2 separate regions of the Homo sapiens genome follow, and region 2 is linked to region 1. A link means that fine-mapping ties the variant in region 1 to the expression of a gene that starts in the linked region. Tissue or cell type: whole blood. Region 1 holds a variant in brackets; the other region holds the start of a gene. All regions are shown on one strand. Distances are between the middles of the regions.

Region 1 (8,102 bases):
TGCAATCACAGCTTACTGCAACCTTGACTCCCTGGGCTCAAGTGATCCTCCCACCTCAGTCTCCCAAGTAGCTGGGATCACAGCCATGCACCACTATGTCCAGCTAATTTTTAAATTTTTTGCAGAGATAGGGTCTCGCTGTATGTTGCCCAGGCTGGTCTCAAACTCCTGGCCTCAAGCGATCTGCCTGCCTCAGCCTCTCAAAGTACTGGGATTACAGGCGTGAGCCACTGTGCCTGGCCGAAAAGGTGATTCTTGATTGAGGGCAAACACACTTTAATTAGTCCCACCCACCAGCCTGGTCTCGGTGGGTCCACTGAGAAAGGCTAGGCATTTGCTGAGGAGGCTCAGTCCTCTGAGCATGAGGTAGGAAGAGGATGGGACAGGTAGCAATGCTGGCTGAGAAGGTAGGTCCCACTGAGGGCACAGATGGGCTCAGGCAGCACAGATGACCGAGAGGAATACCCAAGAGTGGTCCATCCCCGTCTTAGGCACCCCCATGGACACCCACCTGCTTGGTCCTCTGCCTGGGTCACTGGCTGGTGCCAAAGGCCTGCTCCATTCTGCAGCCACAGCACCCAGCCCATGGGGATGGTCAGGCAGGGCTTGAGAAGACTCCTGCCTCCTGGGGCCTGGCTTACACCTACAAGAAACAGCCACCCATTTGTAGATACCCACTGCTAATGCCTAAGGACCCTCTCTTGCTGGCCAGTTCTCCTGTCCCTTGAACTTGATCCACAACAGTAAGGAGTAAAAACAAAGGGCCAGAGGAGGCCCTTCAGAGTCTGGGAAGATGAGGTGTCAGAATCTGCAAAGCTTGGTTTCCAAGTTGTTAAAACAGGCATAGTTAAGACCAGCCTGGGCAACACAGTGAATGCCCATCTCTACAAAAAATTACAAAGTTAGCTGGGTGCAGTGGTGTATACCTGTGGTCCTAGCTGCTTGGGAGGCTGAGATGAAAGGATCTCTTGAGCCCAAGAGGTTGAGGCTACAGTGAACCATGATCATGCCACTGCACTAATTGGGCAACAGAGCAAGACCCTGTCTCAAAAAAAAAAAAAAAAGAAGAAAGAAAGAAAAGAAAAACAGGCACAGGATCTTAGGAGGTAGAGAGGACCTCCTTCCTGTACCAGGGTCCCCTCTACCACACTCATGGCCATTGTAATCCCAACACTTTGGAAGGCCAAGGTGGGTGGTTCACCTGAGGTCAGGAGTTTGAGACTAGCCTGACCAACATGGTGAAACCCCATCTCTACTAAAAATACAAAAATTAGCCAGACGTGGTTGTGTAATCCAGCCAGGATTACACGCCTGTAATCCCAGCAACTTGGGAGGCTGAGGCAGGAAAATCACTTGAATCCAAGAGGTGGAGGCTGCAGTGAGCCAAGGTTGCACCACTGCACTCCAGCCAGGGCAACAAAGTGAGACTCCATCTCAAAAAAAAAAAAAAATTGTCAGAGGCTCTAAGGAAGGACTTTGATGTGCTCAGGCTGTTCTAGGAGAGTGTGGGCAGTCCCCCAGGGCTCACCTCCCCACCCTGCCTTGCCTGTTTTCCATGACACTCACTTTTCCAGCCTTCCCTACAGCTAGAGGCAGTTCAATGACCCAGCTATGGCCAGTGAGACATAAATGAAAGTCTGATATGAACCCTCATTGTAAGATGACACAGGTATACATAATACATACATACAGATGCACATGTATCAGTCAGAGTAAGTGGTTTATCAGTGAGATGAAGTGAGGTCAGTACAGGAGGCTTTTAAAGAGGTTCCATGTAGACCAAGAGAGTGACAGCTAAAGTCAAGGCAACCAGCACAGTTTAAAGTGGGAAAGTGTGAGACTCCGAAGCACGGATCTACAAATTGGGAAACAGGGCACCTGTAATAGGATCGATGCAAATAGCCATGTATTCCCTGACAGGCAGCCAGAATCTGTCAAAAAAGACTAGACTAGAGGGGCTTTCTAAAAGACTCATGGAGAGGTAATGGGTGATTGTGTGGAGGTCAGATGTGGGCAGCAACCCTGCTGGGAAAAGGGGCACCAATCAACAGACAGCAGAAAGGAACCGACCTTTCTCCAGAATCATGACATTAACTTAACACAGGTACAGATGGAGAAAACCTGTGGCGGGGGGCTGGATCCTGAACAAGAAAGGCAGGGCCCAAGCACACAGTTACGACTTTCACTGACACATCTGACTTCTCCTTTCATGGCTTGGAGCAAAACAGGAATAGCAAACCCACCTGTGAGAAGAACCCAGCAGGCTTTGCAGCTTTTGTCTTAATCCCTTAGGCTTCACAGGTGTTAACATTTGCTAAAAAGAAAAACCCTAACTTACTATGAACTCAGCACCATTCATTCTATTGGATTTCAGATCATTTTTCAAATAGGGAGAGAGCCAGCTCACGTGTTGCTGAGACACTGGCTGCTGAGATGAAGAACTTTGTGAAGCGCAATGGAAGAGGGACTCAGAACTCCAGAGAAGAGTTAGGGAAACAGTTGCCAAATGGTGGTGAATGACGGATGATGAGCCAGAGAGTACCATGTGGGAGGACATTCACATCAAATCTTGGCTGCTACCTCCTGAAGGTCTGGATGTCCTCTAATCAAAATATTGGCAGCTCTTAGGTTATTCTTTTTTTGTTTTTCAGACAGGGTCTCACTCCTTTTGCCCAGGCCGGAGTGAAATGGCACGATCTTGGCTAAGTGCAGCCTCAACTTCCAGGGCTTAAGTGATCCTCCCACCTTAGTCTCCTGAGTAGCTGGGACTACAGGCATGCACCACCATGCCTGGCTAATTTCTTTTTGTATTTTTGGTGAAGACAGGGTTTCATCATGTTGCCCAGGCTGATCGTGAACTCCTGAGCTCAAGCAATCCACCTGCCTCGGCCTCCCAAAGTGCTGGGATTACAGGCATGAGCCACCTGGCCCACCTTCCTCAGTTATTATGTCCCATTTGGGACCATAACTAAGACCTCGCAGGCCGCCTGTTGTGACGCTGGCCTGAAATGCTCTACAATCACTTAGAATTATTTATCAGAGGGGATGTGAATAGACATTGTGTTCAAATTTAGCTTGTAAACTACCTTTCTGAGTAATAAGATCCATAGCCCATAACCATCTAGTGTTGACAGTTGGGTCTTTGTTGCTATGAATTCCCACCACATTAGAGGCCTAGATTGGGAGACCTGCCATAAACTAGTACTCACACCCGACGGGTGTGTCATTAGCTTACTCCACCCCTTGGAGGTACTAGTGTTATTCATGCCATTTGCAGACCAGAAAATGGAGGCACAGAAAAATGACCTGTGGTCAGGGCCACAAAGCTGGTACAGCAAGAAATGGAATGCAGTCTTAGGTAACCTGTCATCACCCAAACCTGTCATGGTACTCGGGTAACACACATGCACATGCAGGCACACACACCAGAAGCAGGTTGTGGGGTTTCCCGCTTATTAATATGAATGGTCTCTATCCCTCTTTCCCTCTTCACTGAAGATGTTACTCTCTTACTCTCCTCCCTGCTGTTCTGCAAAGAATGTCTGACTCTAAGCAGGAAGTTTGAAATTTACATTTTCTTATGAGTATAAAAAAGAAAATCCTTCAGAATATTCTTTGACAAACTAAAAATTAATGAATTATTGAAGTGGGAGCATATCTGAATTTAACTTTTCTTTGGGAAGAGGAAAAAGGCTGAAGGGAAAAAACAGCTAATTCAGCAATAATATATCCTTATTTTCAGCCTTACATGCCATCAGTAGGAATCCATTCAGGAGAAAGAGAGATCAGAAGAGAAGCCCGAGTGGAAATGAGAACAAGCTGCGAAGGGGCCTGGCATTCCAGTCACTCTAGTGAGCCGCCTCCTCTAGGTCTTCGGGGCAAGGCTGGCTGCAGAAAGAGCCTCTTGGCCCCGGAAAATTCACACCCAGGTTGGTCAGCTATCTTCACCATGCCTGGCAAGACCTCTGCCAGCCTGGACAGACCTGGAATGTGCTGTCTTGAACTGGGTGGGACTTTGCGGCAGAATAAAGGGAAGGTGAGCGAGGTCGTCATCTTCATTATCCTCTCACAGGACCAACTTTTATTTTATTTATTCATTTAAGGACAAATTTTTAAAAGTAAAGTGAATGAAACCATTTGTGATTAAGATACATAGACAGAACTTCAATGTAGAAAAAAAAAAGACCTTGCTGGGAAACAGATGATGAGAAACACTGTAAAACATTTCACAGACGCACAAAAAGCTCACATTGTAAACAGGATTAAGCTGCTCTTGATTTAGCCCGTAACATCAAGGTTTCATTTTGCTCAGCCTGAGATCTCGCTCAATTTCAAACTGCCTGTGATCCACTCGGTC[A/G]AGGAAGGCTTTCCGTTCAATGTACCTAGAAGATGAAAACAGTGTTTGTCAGTAGAATCCAGTAGGAAAAACTCCTCCCCTGCACAGTCCCATCCCCCAGGGATAAACTAAGTTACAGTAAATGGTGCCGAGAGTGACCACCCATGACTCTTCCAGTACAATCCAAACCACTCACATTTGGTCTAAACAAGGATGGTGAAAATAAAAGGAAGGCAACAGCTTATCAATGAGAAAGTATATTAGAGGCTGGGTGGCAGGAAGATGTTGCAATTTTCTAACAAGACTTTAAGGGCAGAAGAAAGAATACCGGTTTACACAAGCATGGGTTCAAGTCCTAGCTCTAGCTCACTGATTAGCTGGGCAAAGGAATGAACATCTTTGAGCCTCACTTTTCTCTACAGCAGCATGGTGATGCTGTTTTTCTTGGCTTTAGTGGTGTGTTGAATTGGTGGGTAAGAGAAAGCTAGGCCTCCTGCATACATACATCAAAACATGAAAAGGGGGCATGTGGTAATGAAGGAAAGAAGACAGTAAAAATGACCTCACAGGACTGCAGTGAAGGTGAAGTGAGCTGAGGTTCATAAAGTGCACACTTTAGAAGTGATTTAACTGCTTTGAGCTCTTTTCTTCCCCTCATCCTTTTCTCCTCTCCGCAGTATCCTCCACCCTGTTTGCGTCTAGGTTGCTTCTGCTAAGATGACAGGAGAACTCTTTCCCTAAATGCCTCTAAGAGAATGAGTTTAAGGGCCTCTGATCTCTCCTTTCAAGGATCCCCTTGAAAGGTGGACACTCTGCTCCCTAATCTGGTTGGGTTCAGCAAACTTTCCCTCTGTCCTCCAGGCAGGACGGGAAAGCAGCAAGGGCTGAAGCACAGGCGCGCTTGCTAGGAGTGAGGCTGGCTGCTTAATGAGACACAGCTGCATCTTAATGCACCTCCTCACCATAAAGCGTGCTGCGATTTGCCTGGGCGGAGGAGATCTCTGCTGCTAATTAATCTATGGAGAGAGCAAAAATTGCCATGGAAAATGGGAGACAAAATTGAATCTCTGCACTAATTTTTCTTTTGTTGCACTGTGGAAAATATGCATCTGTCATTACAAAGTCATTACATTTATAGTGAGAATGCTACCAGGTTCAGAAACCTGTGTTCCCCTGCTGAGTCCAGGGCCTTGCTTTCCCTTCCAACAGCATCCTAGGAAGTACCATCCATCCTACCTCATTTCCAGCTAGGCCTGACTACCCTGACCCTTCTGGAGGGCTGGCCAGAAATGTACAGGCTCTGAGGCCAGAGGGCTGGAGGTTTGAGTTCTGTCATTTGCTGTCTGTGACTCTGCAAGTCACTTAACCTTGCTAGTTCTGTTTCCTAATCTGTAATAAAGATAATAAATAATGGCTAGTCATCTCCACTCTGAAGGACTGTTGTGTGGATTAAATAAAATAGTGTCTACATCACACAGGGCACAGAGCAGGTACTCAATAAAATGACAGGTAATGTTATCATGGTTTTAGGAAGCCAGCTTCCAACAGGCTCCCAAGGACAGTAGATGGCCCAAGTCTGGACTTATGGTTTCAGCAATGAGGAACCAAAACACCTGGTCTGGCTCAGGTACTAAGCTGCTGTGTCAAAACCGTCAATGAGGCCAGAATGGCTGGAAACACAATGACAGGGCCTGCTCTTAGGTTTGATAAAAGCCCTTGGGGTCAGGATTGTCAGATTTAACAAATAAAATTACAGGCTGCCTGGCTGAATTCGAACTTCAGAGTCCCTGGCAGTCAGGGAAGCTGCAGACAGCATGGACCCCTTTAGATAAAAAGAGAAAAAGGGAAGACAGGTAGGGAAGTGTAGACATCTAACAACAAACTTACTTCCCACCTCCCACTAAGAGACCCGTGATTCTTGAGTGGGGGCTGCTAACCAAAATGGTCTCAGAGGCACGTTCACTACAACTGGTCATCTTTCCACCCCAGCCCCACCAGCCCAAGGGAGGCTCACTACCACGGGGACCAGGATTTTGACAGCACTGCACTTTAACTGTCCCCTGGAAGTGCTAGCAGAAAAAAGAGAGGTGAGCCTCAGCATGAGATCTTGCTGTGCTGTTGTTCACCTGGGGGTGTAAGAGGAATTTAGGGTGTGTTTCAAGAGCCATCTTCCAGTGCTACCTGTCTGGGAGATCAGGTGGAGGGAAGGAGTAAGTATGTGGCTTTAAGCATTTGGGGTCTTTCTTCCTGACTTTATTTTTTTAAGACAGGGTCTTGCTTTGTGGCTCAGGCTGGAGTGCAGTGGTGCACAGTTCACTGCAGCCTCGACCTCTCAGGCTCAAACAATCCTCCTGCTTCAGCCTCTCAGGTAGCTGGGACCACAGGCACACACCACCACACCTGGCTAATTTTAAATCTTTTGTAAAGATAGGGTCTCTCCATGTTGCCCATGCTGGTCTCGAACTCCTGGGCTCAAGCGATCCTCACCTTGGCCTCCCAAGTGCTAGGATTACAGGTGAGAGCCATCGGGCCCAGCCCTGACTTTCCTGTAAATAAGAAGTGACACTTAAATGAGGATGCTAACTGGGTACGAATAAAGGTCCTGCACGTTCCCAGAAGCTGTGTTGGGTCCAGCTGACTTTGAGACTATCAAGAGTGAAGCCCAGGTTGGGTGCTAAACAGGCAGGTGCAGTCAGAGTTTAGGTTTAGGGAGGCCTCAGGCAGCAGTGAGGGGAACATGTGCAGGATGCAACTGAATTCTCAAGGGCAACCCAGACAAAGGCCATCAAGGCAGGTCTGGTGACTATTCCCCAATTCACAGCCATCTGCAGCTGCTAACAGGATGCCTGTGACGGCCTTGGTTTACTGCCAAGAGCTGACCATGAACAAAACTACTTGATATGGACTCTCCCACTGCCAAGAGACAGAAAAGGTACTAAGAATGACAGTAGCTCTGACATTTAGTTTTTGTGTGACTTTGGGCAAGATACTTAATTTTCTGTGCCTTTTTTTCCTTCTCTGTAAAACAGAATAACAATTACAATAACCCTCTGGCAATCCAATGAAACTGTGAGAAGTGCTTTGTATACAATAAAACAAAAAATAGCTATGGGAGTTGTCATGGGCTTGGGGTTCTTGCTTCCCATTTCTTGTGTGTGTGTGTGTGTGTCTGTGTGTGTGTGTGTGTGTGTGTGTGTGTTTTTAGTAGAGATGGGGTTTTGCCATGTTGGTCAGGCTGGTCTTGAACTCCTGGCCTCAAGTAATCTGCCCGCCTCAGCCTCCCGAAGTGCTGGGATTACAGGCGTGAGCCACTCTGCCCGGTCTTGCTTCACATTTCTTCTGACTTGACTTTACCTCTACAGAACCTCAAAACCCAGGGCAACCGGAACAGAGACCAAGAGACTAAATGTCCCTGAAAGAGGAAGGGCTCATTAGAAAGGCCACCTCCTCAAAGGTGGCCACTGAGACTCAGGACATTTTCATGCACTTTAAATGGGTCACGGTCCCAGAACAGACCCACCTGAGGACAAGTGCAATGGGAATCACGGCTCTTGCTCTTGATGTGTCCGGGTGCTTTTCTGGCCTGTGCGCAGCCCTTTTGGGGGCCCAGCATGACTCAGCCCAGTCCACAGGGAAGCCTAGTGGTGGGGGATGCATCATCCCTTTCTGCTTCCATTGCCTTCTGTGGCCCATTTAAGAGGCTCTTCACTTTCTTTAATAAAATATGCTAAGAACCTAAGGGATTTTCTAGTTTTTCCTTTTAGAA
Region 2 (8,088 bases), 140 kb after region 1:
GGAACAGGCCAGGCGTAGAGGCTCACGCCTGTAATCCCAGCACTTTGGGAGGCCGAGGCAGGCAGATCATGAGGTCAGGAGTTCGAGACCAGGCTGGCCAACATGGTGAAATCCCGTCTCTACTATAAAAATACAAAAATTAGCCAGGCGTGGTGGCATGAACCTGTAGTCCCAGCCACTCCGGAGGCTGAGGTGGGAGAGTTGCTTAAACCCGGGAAGTGGAGGTTGCAGGGAGCCTAGATGCCACCACTGCACTCTAGCCTGGACAAGAGAGACAGAGTCTGTCTCGAAAAAAAAGAAAAAAGAAAATGGGAACAAAGAGAATATTCTACCAGCTTCCGGAGACAAACAGATCTTATACATTGAGCAGAAATCAGTAACAAAATATTTATTAATAGCAACATGGGAATCTAGAAAGTAATGAAGTAACACTTTAAAATTCTGATGGAAAATTATTTCCAACCTAGAATTCAAACAGACAATCAATTACGCCTGAGGGGCATGGTTACTTTTAGGCATTCAAGGTCTCATAAGAATGTTCCTGACCAGGCGTGGTGGCTCACGCCTGTAATCCCAGCAGTTTGGGAGGCTGAGGAGGGCGGATCACCTGAGGTCAGGAGTTCAATATCAGCCTGGCCAACATGGTGAAACCCCGTCTCTACTAAAAATACAAAAATTAGCTGGGTGTGGTGGTGGGCACCTGTATCCAAGCTACTTGGGAGGCTGAGGCAAGAGAATCGCTCAAACCCGGGAGGTGGAGGTTGCAGTGAGCCAAGATCACGCTACTGCACTCCAGCCTGGGCGACAAGAGCAAGACTCTATCTCTAAATAAATAAGTAAATACACTGGAGTACTCATAGAAGGTAACCAAGACAAAGTGGAGGCCAGAAGGCAAAGACTGTTTCAGAAGATTAAAGTGAAAATCTAATGAATGTAAATATTTTGGGAGATGATTTATACAATTCTAAAAGTTTAGAGTCAAATTAGCAGTGTCGACGAAAAGAGTCAAACTCTTGTCAAGTATTTGAAGAGAATTATTCTGTGCCACATATGAGTAACCACAGCCCATGATGCAGCCCTCAAGAGGTCCTGAGAGCACGCGCCCAAGGTGGTTGGGGTGCAGCTTGGTTTTATATATTTTAGGGAGGCATGAGACATCAATCAAATACATTTGAGAAATATACTGGTTTGGTCCATTAAGACAGGACAACTCGGGGTGGGAGTGCTTCCAGGCTACAGGTAAATTTAAAAATTTTCTTGTTGGCAACAGGTTGAGTTTGCCTAAACAGAAAGGAATGTCTGGGTTAAGATAGAGGTTGTGGAGACCAGAGGTTTTTTTTGTTTGTTTGTTTGTTTTTTCGAGATGGAGTCTCACTCTGTTGCCCAGGCTGGAGTGCAGTGGCGCAACCTCAGCTCACTGCAACCCCACGCCCCTGGTTCAAGCAATTCCCCTGCCCCAGCCTCCGGAGTAGCTGGGATTACAGGCACACGCCACCACACCCAGCTATTTTTTTATATCTTTAGTACAGACAGGGTTTCACTATGTTGGCCAGACTGGTCTCCAACTCCTGACCTCAGGCAATCCGCCCACCACAGCCTCCCAAAGTGCTGGGATTAAAGGTGTGAGCCACCGCACCTGGCCACTTTTTTTTTTTAAATGGAGTCTTGCTCTGTTACCCAGGCTGGAGTGCAGAAGCATGATCTTCACTCACTGCAACCCCCACCTCTTGGGTTCAAGAGATCTCGTGCCTCAGCCTCCCCAGTAGATAGGATTACAGGCGCCCGTCACCACACTTGGCTAATTTTCATATTTTCAGTAGAGATGGGGTTACACCACGTTGGCCAGGCTGGTCTTGAACTCCTGACCTCAAATGATCCACCAGCCTCTGCCTCCCTAAGTGATAGGATTATAGGCTCGAGCCACTGCTCGGCTGAGAACACAGTTTTATCATACAGATGAAGCTTTTAGCAGACAGGCTTCAGAGAGAATAGGTTGCAAAATGTTTATTATCAGACTTAAAGTCTGCATCGATGTTAATGTCAGAGACATACAATGAGGCAGGTTCAGCCCCCACTTCCCATCATGGCCCAAAACAGTCTCTCAGGTTAAATGTTAAAGAGCCCTGGCTAAGGAGGAAGTCCATTCAGATGGTTGGGGGCGCCTTAGAATTTTATTTTTGGTTTACAGCAGTTAAGTACATAGACAGCTAAGTAGCAACAAAAAATGGCAATTATTAGCACCAGAGAAAACAAGAAGTGCAGGAAAAGTAATCTGTATAACATACGGTTCAGCTGTCAACATGATGTTTATTCACACTGTCATTAGAAAAAAAAAACACTGGGCCTGGCACGGTGGCTCACGCCTGTAATCCCAGCACTCAGGGAGGCCGAGGCGGGCAGACCATTTGAGGTCAGGAGTTTGAAACAAGCCTGGCCAACATGGTGTAACTTCGTCTCTACTAAAAATACAAAAAAATCATTCGGGTGTGCTGGCGGGGACCTGTAGTCCCAGCTACTCAGGAGGCTGAGGCAAGAGAATGGCGTGAACCCGGGAGGCAGAGCTTGCAGTGAGACGAGATCCCGCTACTGCACTCCAGCCTGGGAGACAGAGCAAAACTCTTGTCTCAAAAAAAAAAAAAAAAAAAAAAAGAAAAGAAAAGAAAATCGATCGGGTGTGCTGGCGGGCGCCTGTAATCCCACCTACTTAGGAGGCTGAGGCAGAACTGCTTGAACCGGGAAGGCAGAGGCCGCATTAAGCAGAGACTGTGCCACTGCACTCCAGCCTGAGCCACAGAGCGAGACACTGTCTCGAAAGAAAAAAAAACACTGAATACTGATCTAACTAAAACTGGACACAGGTTCAACGGCAGACTACGGAGTTGGGGAGGCCCCGAAGGTGGAAGTGTTTGTGTGTGTGTTTGGGATGAGGGGAAGGAGGTCAGGGGCTACTAAAAATGATACCTACTATACATGGGTTAAATCAATAGACAACAGAAATATAATACCAAATTCAAAAGGTGGAAAGAAGTTTCTCCTGAGGAATATTAAATAAAATAGGGATGAGGGTGATGGGACTGGCTAACTTTTTTTTTTTTTTTTTTGAGACGGAGTCTCGCTCTGTCACCCAGGCTGGAGTGCAGTGGTGTGATCTCGGCTCACTGCAACCTCCACCTCCCGAGTTCAAGCGATTCTCCTGCTCCAGCCTCCTGAGGAGCTGGGACTACAGGCGCGTGCCACCATGCCCAGCTAATTTTTGTGTTTTTAGTACAGACGGGGTTTTACCATGTTGTCCAGGATGGTCTCGATCTCCAGACCTTGTGATCCACCCACCTCAGCCTCCCAAAGTGTTGGGATTACAAGCATGAGCCACCGCGCCAGGAATGGAATGGCTAGTTTTCAACGTGCCTTTTAGAAATACTTCACTAGCCGGGGCGCGGTGGCTCATGCCTGTAATCCCAGCACTTTGGGTGGCTGAGGTGGGAGGATCACTTGAGCCCACGAGTTCGAGACCAGCCTGGGCAACATAGCAAGATGCCATTTCTAAAAAAAAAAAAAAAAAAAAAAATTTAAAAAATTAGCGGGCGTGGCAGCCTGCACCTGCAGTCCCAGCTACTCCAGAGGCTGAGACGGGAGGATCGCTTGAGCCCAGGAGTCTGAGGTTGCAGTGAGCCAAGATCGCATCACTGCACTCCAGCCTAGACAACAGCAAGACCCTGTCTTTAAATAAAACAGAACAGAACAAAGTAAAACAAAGAGAATAGGGACGACTCCTGGGTTGTGTTTTGTTAGTCTGTTTGTTTCTTGTTTGTCTAGTCTTTCAACTGAAGATGTGAATGGGTGAAGATACTTTCAACGAGACGGTTTGTCTGGGGAAGACCAAGAAGGGGGAACAGAAAGATTTCTTCAGTAAGATTCATTCTCACCCCGTTCGGGTTGAGATCCCTAAGGAAAGAAAGTTCTGAGAGGAGAGGATGGGTGGACGTCACAATGAGGCAAAAAGCATCAAAGGGGGAACTTTCTATCAGAACTTTCTAACAACCAGGCGGAGAGCGGACAGCTCTATCTTGGACGGGGTGGTGGCCAGCAGCTCTCTCGGGCCAGGGCTGAAAAAAACCTCCAAGGCTCGGACTGCCGCCCCGACTTCTGAAGCAGCGGTGTCGTTCGGGGCTGACCGACGAGCGTCCCTAGCGACAAGGGGCCGTGTCCATGTGCCGGTTCCCGCGCTGCAAGAGGGGGCGGCGGCCGGAGCTGCCCAACGGGAGGGGAGCACAGAACCGCCACGCGCACACGCCTCGGGCCGGAGCGGCCGAGGATGAGGGGCCTGAGGGAGCGGACGCTCGAGAACAGGAGCCCCCCTGGACCACCTGGGCCACAGGGCAGACGCCCGCGGGGGCAGAGCGCGCCTCACGTGAGGCGTGGGGCGGGGCAATTCGCTTCTCGCCTCAGGCGGAATCGCTCACCCGACGGCACGTAGTCCTCGTCCTCCTCCGACGTAGAGAAGTCTTCGGAGTCGAATTCCTCCATGTTGCTGCCGCTCGACGCTGGTCAAACTCACAAGACCGCAGCAGCCGCCTCCAACGGCAAAGCTCTAGGGAGAGACCATAGAGCCCCGGCGGCGGCGACGGCAGCTAGGGCGGCCCCCGACAGCGCTTTGCACATGCGCAGAGAGTACTACGTGGTTGCCCTACGACACTTCCGGCCGATGCCTCCGGGCTGGCGTCCCTGAAGCCCTCGCTGGGAGCCCGAACCCGCCCGGACGCGGTGCATGCTGGAACTTGTAGTCTTCGGCGCTGCCTCGCCGCCTTAATATAATAAACCTGCTTAAATAAAATTACATATCTATGGAAATACAGGTGACCTTCATTAATCATTAATTCGTAATGCCAAATTCACTTACTTGCTAAAATGTATTTGTAACCCTAAAATCAATCATCACGGTACTGTCTGGGGTTCTTCCCGGGCATGCGCAGAGGGTGAAAATTTGGAGTTGGCGGAGGTAAGGTTCCCAGCTGAAGTTTGAACTGGGAGAAGCGCCGCCTTCTAGTCGCAGCTCCTGTGCTGTAAACAAAGAGTCCTTTCCGCAGTCTGTTTACTGACACTTTTTTTTCTGCTTTTTGTGGGTGGTTTTGCTTTCTAAAATGGCCCCCAAGCGTAGTGCTTAAGCTCTGCCCAGTGTTCCTAAGCGAAAGAAGACCGTGATGTGCCTTACGGAGAAAGTCCGCGTGTTGGATAAGCTCCAATCAGGCATGAGTTACAGTGCTGTTGGCCATGAGCTCAATGTTAACGAGTCGACAATCCGGTACATCAAGAAAAAGGAAAAGGAAATTCACCGATCTGTCCGTGAGGCCGCTCCGGATAGTGCTGAAGTGACCTCCATCGTGCGTGATGAAGCTATGACAAAGATGGAAAAGATGGAAAAGCGGCTAAATTTGTGGATTCATGAGATGTCAATCGATTAAAAAAAACATAGTGGACAGCATTGTGGTGAGGCTGAAAGCCAAAGATATCTGTGGTCACGTTACCCAGAGTCAAAGAAATGCTAAGCCCTTCTCGGCGAGTGCTGGCCGGCTCGCGCGTTTCAAAAGGCGATACGGGGTGAAAAATGTTAAACTTGCAGGTGAGGCGAGCTCTGCAGATCAGGAGGCTGCGGAAGAATTTTAAAAATACTTGCTAAGTGTTATACAGGAAAAGGGTTATGTGAAAGAGCAGGTTTTCAATGCGGATGAGACTGGCTTATTTTACAAGGATGTTGGCAAACGAACCTATATAATGCAAACGGCCTCCAAAGCCCCTGGCTTTAAATCATGCCAGGATCATGCACCCTTGTTATTGTGCGCCAATGCCAAGAGCGACTAAAGTGCAAACTCCTAATGGTGTAAAGAACCCAAAATCCACAAGCACTTAACGGGAAATACGTGAACCATCTGCCAGTCTATTGGAGGTGGAACAAAAAAGTGTGGATGATGTCTGATTGGTTCCACAACTGCTTCATCCCAGAAGCTGAACACTGTCTCCAGGGCAGAAACCTTGCCTTCAAGGGTTTTTTGTTTTGTTTTGTTTTGTTTTTTGTTTGTTTGGGTTTGTTTTGTTTTGGTTTGGTTTTGAAACGGAGTCTCGCTCTGTCGCCCAGGCTGGAGTGCAGTGGCGCAATCTCGGCTCACTGCAAGCTCCGCCTCCCGGGTTCACGTCATTCTCCTGCCTCAGCCTCCCGAGTAGCTGGGACTACAGGCGTCCACTACCACGCCTGGATAATTTTTTGTATTTTCAGTAGAGACGGGGTTTCACCGTGTTAGCCAGGATGGTCTTGATCTCCTGACCTCATGATCCGCCTGCCTCGGCCTCCCAAAGTGTTGGGATTACAGGCGTGAGCCACCGCGCCGGGCACCTTCAAGGTTTTGTTAATTTTGGATAATGCTACAATCCATTGCTGCAAAGAACTCGAAAATGCACACGCCAACATAGGAGTTCTTTTTATGCCCCCAAACACTAAGTCTCTCATCCAACCCCTCAATCGGGGCATAATAAAAGCATTCAAGGCACACTACACAAGGGAGCTTTATATGAAGGCCTGTGAGGCTCTCAGGACCAACAAGGAAACCACCATGCTGGACTATTGGAAGTCGGTCACTACATGCAACGTTATTGATTATGTCAGTACAGCCTGGGAGAGCATTGGTCAGGCTACTACCAATAACTGTTGGGAAAATGTTTGGCCAGACTGCGTGGAGAATTTTGAAGGGTTTGAAGGTGTTACAGAAAATATAAAGAACACTGTCAGAGACATAATGCATATGGCACAGCAGGTAAGTGGAGAGGGCTTTGATGACGTGAAGGAAGGAGATGTGGAGTACATTTTGGCAGAGAAGGCAGTGGAACCAACCAACGAAGACCTGGATGAGATGGCAAAAGAAGGCATTGGAGTTGATGGCCATGAAAGTCGGCCCAAGACTTCCAGAATTGTCCCTCTCACAGCGCCAAAATATCAGAATGGAGTTCTGCCTTGGAAAAAATTTTTAGCGACATGGAAGAGTGTGACCCTACGCTTGATCGAAGCCTCAAATTTAAATGGCTGGCCTCCACTGCGTTTGCCCCTTATACCGAGATGCTTAAAGATTTCAGGCAGAAAAGCCAGGCAGGCAAGGCTAATGCAATTTCTCAAGCCAGTTTGGGAGGGAAGATTGCCCACTCCTTCAACAAGTGTCAAGAGCCAGACTCCTAAGGTAGAAATGCCAGAGGTTGACCTGCCACCCTCTTCCTCTTCTGCAGAATAAATTTCACTCACCCCTCCCCTGGTTTCTGTGGGGCAAGCCAAGGTCGAGAGGTTTAACCACATTGTGCAGCTCCATCAACCGTAAGATTTTAGTTGATATTTTTATAAAACTTAGGATGCTCCATCTTTGAACTTTTTCCCTTTATTTGTATTGCTGTACTGTAGGGTATACAGTATGTGTGCAAAGTAGTGTATGTGTTTACTGTGGGAACTGTACAGTATGTTATACTGTTGACTGTATATGGGAACTATATGTGTGTACTCTGTGTGTGCCAATGAAAAGGTTGTACAGGCTGGACGCGGTGGCTCACACTTGTAATCCCAGCACTTTGGGAGGCTGAGGTGGGCGGATCACAAGGTCAGGAGTTCAAGACCATCCTGGCCAACATGGTGAAACCCTGTCTCTACTAAAAATAGAAAAATTAGCTGGGTGTGGTGGTGGGCGCCTGTAATCCCAGCTACTCAGGAGGCTGAAACAGGAAAATCGTTTGAACCTGGGGGTCGGAGGTGGCAGTGAGCCAAGACCATGCCATTGCACTCCAGCCTAGACAAAAGGGCAAGACTGACTCAAAAAAAAAAAGTAGTGCAATCTCAGTACACTAGAGTACATTACACCAAACTACTGTCATTGAAATTTTATTGTAAATACTGCAGATTATTTTTAAGAAATACATATTAAATAAGGTGTCTTTGAACAGAAACACACATAAAACAAAGTTACATACCGATCAGTTGACAAAAGTGTTGACCAGAGGTTCACAGGAACCTAACCCTGTATTTCTCCCAGGACCCATGGTTCGGTTTTTGCTAATTCAATG

The links. PIP is the estimated chance that this variant, and not a neighbour inherited with it, causes the effect.
Region 2: it holds the start of CFDP1, and the variant in region 1 is fine-mapped to the expression of CFDP1 in whole blood (TOPMed, PIP above 0.99).

The regions. Positions count from the first base shown.
Region 1 is chr16:75,289,661-75,297,762 of GRCh38, forward strand. CFDP1 (craniofacial development protein 1) reads right to left here. Exons shown (of 7, transcript NM_006324.3): 7 at 4,050-4,382. The coding sequence ends at 4,292. Among named protein-coding and RNA genes, the nearest start is that of BCAR1, 42 kb to the left of the region's middle. The variant A/G (reference allele first, on the strand shown) is at 4,358.
Region 2 is chr16:75,428,829-75,436,916 of GRCh38, forward strand. It overlaps CFDP1 (craniofacial development protein 1), which reads right to left and starts at 4,675. Exons shown (of 7, transcript NM_006324.3): 1 at 4,461-4,675. The coding sequence starts at 4,524. It overlaps LOC124903723 (tigger transposable element-derived protein 1-like), which reads left to right and starts at 6,376. Exons shown (of 1, transcript XM_047435019.1): 1 at 6,376-7,392. The coding sequence starts at 6,474. The coding sequence ends at 7,271. RefSeq lists silencers at 2,655-2,854, 4,111-4,350 and enhancers at 4,661-5,170, 4,714-5,281.